2 separate regions of the Homo sapiens genome follow, and region 2 is reported to be linked to region 1. The links are microRNA targets in miRTarBase. Many come from high-throughput screens and were not tested one by one. Region 1 holds a microRNA gene; the other region holds the end of a gene's coding sequence. Distances are between the middles of the regions.
Evidence for each region. The annotated mature microRNA hsa-miR-4272 reads CAUUCAACUAGUGAUUGU and lies in region 1 at 1,637-1,654, opposite strand. An mRNA with a match to its seed (bases 2 to 7 or 8) in the 3' UTR can be bound and repressed. Matches are read on the target gene's strand: a 7mer-m8 pairs with bases 2 to 8, a 7mer-A1 pairs with bases 2 to 7 and ends in A, and an 8mer does both.

Region 2: the mRNA of NDUFB5 is a reported target of hsa-miR-4272. Seed matches in the 3' UTR shown: 7mer-A1 at 1,963-1,969.

What each region holds. Positions count from the first base shown.
Region 1 is chr3:67,223,616-67,227,153 of GRCh38, reverse strand. MIR4272 (microRNA 4272) reads right to left here and starts at 1,690; the gene lies at 1,627-1,690.
Region 2 is chr3:179,623,546-179,626,545 of GRCh38, forward strand. NDUFB5 (NADH:ubiquinone oxidoreductase subunit B5) reads left to right here. Exons shown (of 6, transcript NM_002492.4): 6 at 375-3,000. The coding sequence ends at 495. Among named protein-coding and RNA genes, the nearest start is that of NDUFB5, 20 kb to the left of the region's middle.

The DNA.
Region 1 (3,538 bases):
CATAGTACTCATTGGAGAAAAGGAGACAGTAAAAATTTTTAGGTAAAGCTAACCTACATTCACCTAATAAATGCTGAATAAATACCAGCAATGCTAGAGAAGCCATTTGTATGGATCCATGGTGTTTGGTTCAGCTGGGTTGAGATCTCCATGTTTCCATCATTCCTCAGGCACTATAAGCCTGTGACAAAATGGTGTCCTTGGGTCACACATGTTTTGGTCCCAGACTCGGTGTCCAATATGTCAGCCCATCAAGGCAGATGGTGAGCAGGACAATGTTTCAGAACTTTGGAAAATATACCACTTAAGAGTCCAGCCAGGGAAATGCCTGAAATTGAAAAATAATGTAATAGAATATTTGATTTGCCACCATAGACCTTAACTGGGAAGATTGCCACATTGAAATGAGTGGACAGCTTGGCTGACTTCGATCCTTCAGCTCTGCTTAGTAACTGCACATCAGTGGGTTGGGTCCTAGACTTTCAATGGGTCCCCAAAGTCCCTCCCCTAAACATTACACATCTACAAGCACATACCCCCAATAATATTTGGGGCTATATCCATAAAGTTGCAACATTAGCCTAAGAGCAAAGGTCTGAGCCAGTGGTCACTGGGTGTTTCCTCGGAGGGACTGTAGGTGGCCAGCAGAATGGATGGCAAGGCAAATGAAATGTCATTTCCATTTCATTCAGTTTGCTTTTTCTCCATGCTACCAGCTACTGACTTGGCCTCTTGGAAACAAAGTTGTTTTTCTGTGATTCACCAGAAACTTTCTGGACCTGAATACCTCACTTCTCCAAGGTTAGCCTCTTTGAGCCATTAAGAAGTGTTGTCCCTTGTCCATTCGGGGTTGAATGTCTGTTATTTCCCTCCCCACTGCCCCCCGCCAATATTCCTTGAACTTCTCAGAGAATATGTCTTTGGCATGCAGCCTGTGGAAGGCTGTTTATTTTAAACACCTGCAATTCTCTCTTCCTCACCTCACTCCCCTTCCAAACAAGGAATCACTCTTAGCAAATCTAAAGTGCTAGAGAGCTGATGGTTCTGGAAGCAGCCTTCAGCTAATAACAGATAGGGAAGGTAGTAGAAAATCCTCTAGCTTCTCTGGCCCTCAAGCAGGACCACTCTCTGAAGTGTGGTCCACACAGTCTTCCTGTAGTTCCCCGGTGAGGTCAAGCTCCAGGTTTCTAAGGCAATATCTGACTTAATAACACATTTTTAAAATTTGCTTTGTTCCTTTTCTATCTCACTTGCCTATGCCCCTCTTGGTATTTCCTGAGACCTTCCAAATAAACGATTTACACTAGAATCCTCCTCTCAGCATCTGCCTTGGGAGAGTCAGTCTCCATGCAGTAGGGAGGCTGTGTAAATTACATGCTGAGATTATGCCTTGCATTATCAGGAAGCACACAAAAAGCAAAACTACACAAAGACTTGGTGGATGAAAGACCTTCTCAGAAATGAGAAGACTGGCATTTGATAACATGCTAAGATGGCCAACATCTTTGAGTGGTTACTCTCCATTTCCCACAGTGAATTATAAGTCCCAGATAGGACACGGTCCATGACAGTTTTTGTTTACCAATGTGTCCCCATAAGGTAGACACACAGTAATATTGAGCAGATCTCTTATAACACAATCACTAGTTGAATGCTTTCTATGCATTAACTGATTAATTTGTGCAGAAAAGATCCAGCCCTTTGGATAACACAACTCCGTTGGTTAATGGTGCCCTTTCTATGGGAGGAGGATTCCTGATACTGCTAGTGCTGTCCTGATGACCAGCAGGGTCACAGAGATGGGAACTGACTCTGCCCTGGGAGTTGGCAAAGGAGACTTTTCATCTAGGTCTTGACTATTCCTAGGAGTCTAACGGTTAAAAAAAGGAAATGGAGTGGAGGGTGACAATTATTTATTTATTCAACAATTGTGTAATTTAGTACCAGCTTTGTGACAGGAATTCTGCTAGGCATAAAGAAGAAGTAGTGTTCAGGGACCCTGCCTTCTCAGAATTTTGATTGAAGCACTATTCACTTTGCATTCTTTGTGGAGTTGTACCACGTGTTCCTAGTGGTAGACAGCAAAGAAGTAAAAAAAAAATTTAAAAAGATTATGATAAATACGAAGTAATACAGCAGTGATTCTTAAATTTTAATTGGCATCTAGATCATGTGAGGATCTTATTTAAATGTATATTCTGATTCAGTAGGCCTGGGATAGGGCCTGAGATTCTGCATTTCTAATCAGGGCGCAGGTGGATACAGATGCTGCTGGTCCTTGGAGCGTATTTTGAATAGTATGGTGATAGGCTGTAGTTCTCAACCTGGTCTGTGCATAACAGAACCTGAGGAACTTTAAAAATGACTGATGCCTGACTTTACTCCAGCAATATTTGTCTAATTTGAATGGGAGAATCCTGGCATGATAGTTAACATTAGGTGTCAACCTGACTGGGTTGAGGGATGCCTAGATGGCTGGTGAAGTATTGTTTCTGGGTGCGTCTGTGAGGTTGTTCCTGGAGCAGGTTGACATTAGAATTGGTGGAGCGGGAGAGGAAGACTCACCGCATGTGGGTGGGTGCCATTCTCTTGGGCTGCCAGCATACCTAGGTCAAAATAGGCAGGAAAATGTGGGATAAGCTTGCTTTCTGAGTCTTCTGGCTCTTTTTCCTTTCCGGTACTGGATCCTTGCTTCTGTTCCCCCTGCCATTCGATATCAGACTCCAAGTTCTTCAGCCTTCGGACTCTGGGACTTGCACCAGTGTCCACCCCAAGGGCTTTCAGGCCTTCACCCGCAGACTAAGGGCTGCATTCTCGGCTTCCTTGGTTTTGAGGCTTTCAGACTTGGACTGAGCCACTATCAGCTTCTCTTTCCCCAGGTTGCAGACCACCTATTGTAGGACTTCGCCTTGTAATCATGGGAGCCAATTGTTCCTAATAAACTCCCTTTTATGTATACATATACGCTATTGGTTCTCTCTCTCTGGAGAACCCTAATATACCTGGGTATTGGCAATTTTTTTAAAACTGCTTTATTGGGTGTAAATTACATATCGTAAATCCATCTATCTTATTATACATTTTATGTGTACAAGTAAATAATTTTTAGTGTGTCTGTAATTTTGCCACCATTACCACAATCCAGATTTAGAACACTTTTCATTATCCTCAAAACATCTACTGAACTCATATGCAATTAATCTCAGTTCTCACCATCAGCCCCAGGCAACCACCAATCTACTTTATTTCTCCACAGATTTGCCTTTTCTGGACATTTCATATAAATGAAATTATATAATATGTGGTCTTCATGCCTGATTTTTTTATTAGCATGATGTTTTTGAGGTTCATCCTTGTTGTAACATGTATTATTACTTCATTCTTCCTTATTCCTTCATTGATTGTGTGGTATAAGTAGATTACATTTTGTCTAACCATTCACCAGTTGGCTGACATCAGAGTTGTCTCCACTTTTTGGTAAATAATGTTTCTTTGACTGTTCACATACAAATCTTTACATGGGAATGTATTTTTATCT
Region 2 (3,000 bases), 110 Mb from region 1:
CCCCTGTAGTCCCAGCTACTTGGGAGGCTGAGGCAGGAGGATCACTTGAGCCTGGGAGGTAGAAGTTGCAGTGAGCTGAGACTGCGCCATAGCACTCTGACCTGGGCAACCGTGCAAGACTCCGTCTCAAAAAAACAAAAACAACAAAAAAACTGTTTGATAGCTATCTATATAAGCAACATAATAAAAGTCAAAAATAAGTCCCAAATTTTGGTTATAGATATATACCAGATGTATGCCTACATAAGGGTCTGTGGAGGAGCATTATACTTTACATAAAAGCAGACTCCAGTGATTGTCCTTTATGGAAATGGCTCATTAAATTTATAATTGGAAGTGCTGGAATCTCAATATTGCTGTTCCATTTGTTACAGGGTAAAGGAGCTGGAAGTGCGAAAATTGATGCATGTGAGAGGAGATGGACCCTGGTATTACTATGAGACAATTGACAAGGAACTTATTGATCATTCTCCGAAAGCAACTCCTGACAATTAAGCATTTTTTTCTCCAAATACAAAGTATATTCTCTTTATTGGAAAATAAATTAATAAATATATTCTGTATTTTTGCTCTCCGTGAAAAACAAAAGAGCCTCTGACATTACTGTCTCTCAGTGTTGGTTCAGATTGAGGCTTTTGTTTGAGGAGTTTGGCTTCCAGTCCCCAAAGAAGGTTTAAAATGTACTAATAAAAACTGGAGAAATAGGAATTTGTGAACTCCTAAAATTGTAGCAACTTTGAAAGGTTAGTGTTTTATTTACCTGACAAATGGAAGTTATAGAAGTCTAATAATGTTAAGCACCAGTAATTATAGTATTTTGTACAAATGCCTGTACTGTAGATGTCTGTATTATTGAGGGGCAACTCAGGATTTTAAGTTCCATAAAGTATTGAACCAACTCTAAAATGTTAACTCCTTAATAAACAGATTCTCAGTAAACAAATTTTAAAGTTTATAATGCTTTCATGGTTTTTTTTTTTGCCATGTATTGTTCTTTTTTAAACTACACACAGACACACAGACACGTACACACACACACACACACACACACACACACACGCTCTTTTCCTAGATGCAATCTCTGGGATCCCTTAGAGTCCTTTTTTGGGGAAGTAGTTGCACTAGGTAATGTGATTCCTGCAGAGATTATAAAATGTGAGTAAAAGCTAAAAATGACTCATTTATTAAGCATTTATTGTCTGCTAGACACTATATTAAATAACTGCATTTTTTAACATTATTTTCTTTTCTTTTTTTTTTTTTTTTTTTTTGACGAAATCTTGCACTGTCACCCAGGCTAGAGTGCAGTGCCGTGATCTCGGCTGCAACCTCCGCCTCCCGGGTTCAAGCAATTCTTGTCTCAGCCTCCCAAGTAGCTGGGATTACAGGCACCCACCACCACACCCGGCTAATTTTTGTATTTTTCAGTAAAGACTGTTTCGCTGTGTTGGCCAGGCTGGTCTTGAACTTCTGACCTCAGGTGATTGGCCTGTCTCCACTTCCCAAAGTGCTGATTACAGGCCTGAGCCACTGCACCCAACATTATTTTCAAAATGACAAGAGGTAGTATTTAGTACCTGAGGCTCAGATGTTAAACACAAACTCAGTATTTACAAAAATAAACATTTAAAACATTTACACTTCAACTTCCAAAATGGCTTTTTACCATAAACATTCAGGATTTTCAAACCTGTAACAGCTTATCAATGCATCTCATCTTAGAAGTATGTTTTACATTCTTCATAAAAATAAAAATGAACCCAGGCTTCCTAAGATTCAGGCCAGTGGGTCTCCACTTAAGGCCAAATGGAGAAATAATTTTTTGCTGCCTAAACACACAAGTGAATTGAAAAGCCACAGGCCATTCATTCAACAAATAACTTTATTATTTTTATTGATAATGTACTTGTAATGTGCTATTTTGATACATGTATGCAAAGTATAATGGTCAAATCAGGGTATTTGAATATACATATATTTCAAAATATAGTTATATATTTCAAAATAAGATATAGCAAGTTAGAAGTATATATAAGTATATTATTATATGTTATTGTTAACTATAATTTACCTACTGTACTATCAAATACTAGAACTTATTCCTTGTATCTAAATGTATTCTTGTAACCATTAACTAACTTTTCTGAATTTCCTACTCTCCCCTTCCCTTCCCAGCCTTGTAACCACCTTTCTACTCTGCCTCCATGAGACCCATTTTTTAATCTCCCACATATGAGTGAGAACATTCAATATTTGTCTTTCTAGGCTTGGCTTATTTCACTTACATTAATGACCTCCAGTTCCATCCATGTTGCTACAAATGACAGAATCCCATTCTTTTTCATAATATTGTCCATACATACCACATTTTCTATATCCATTTATCTGTTGATGGACACAGGTTGCAAAGGGATTGCTGGATTGTATGATAATTCTATGTGTAGTTTCTTGAGGAACCTTCATGGTGTTCTTCATAGTGGTTGTACTACTGTACATTCCTACCAATGGTGGATGAGCGTTCCCCTTTCTCCACATCCTCACAAGCATTTGTTATTTTTTCTTTTTTTTCAAATGAACATTTTAACTGGGGTGAGATATCTTAATGTGGTATTGGTTTACATTTCCCTAATTATGGTTGAGCATTTTTTCACATATCTAATGGCCATTCATATGTCTTCCTTTGAGAAATGTCTATACAGATCTCTGGCCCTTTTTTTAAATTTTTTTTTTTTTTGAATTGGGGTCACCCAGTCTGGAGGTGATCTGGGCTTCCACATCCTGGGCTCAAGTGATCATTCCACCTCAGGATGACCCAAATAGCTAGGACCAAAGGCGAGTGCCACCATGCTCAGCTAATTTTTTTGTATTTTTTGTAGCGACTGGGTTTCACCATGTTGCCCAGGCTGGTCTTGAACTCCTGTGCTCAAGTGATCCGCTCACCTTGGCCTCTCAAAGTGCAGGTACTTTAGGCGTGCCTGGCCTTTTTGTCCATTTTATTTT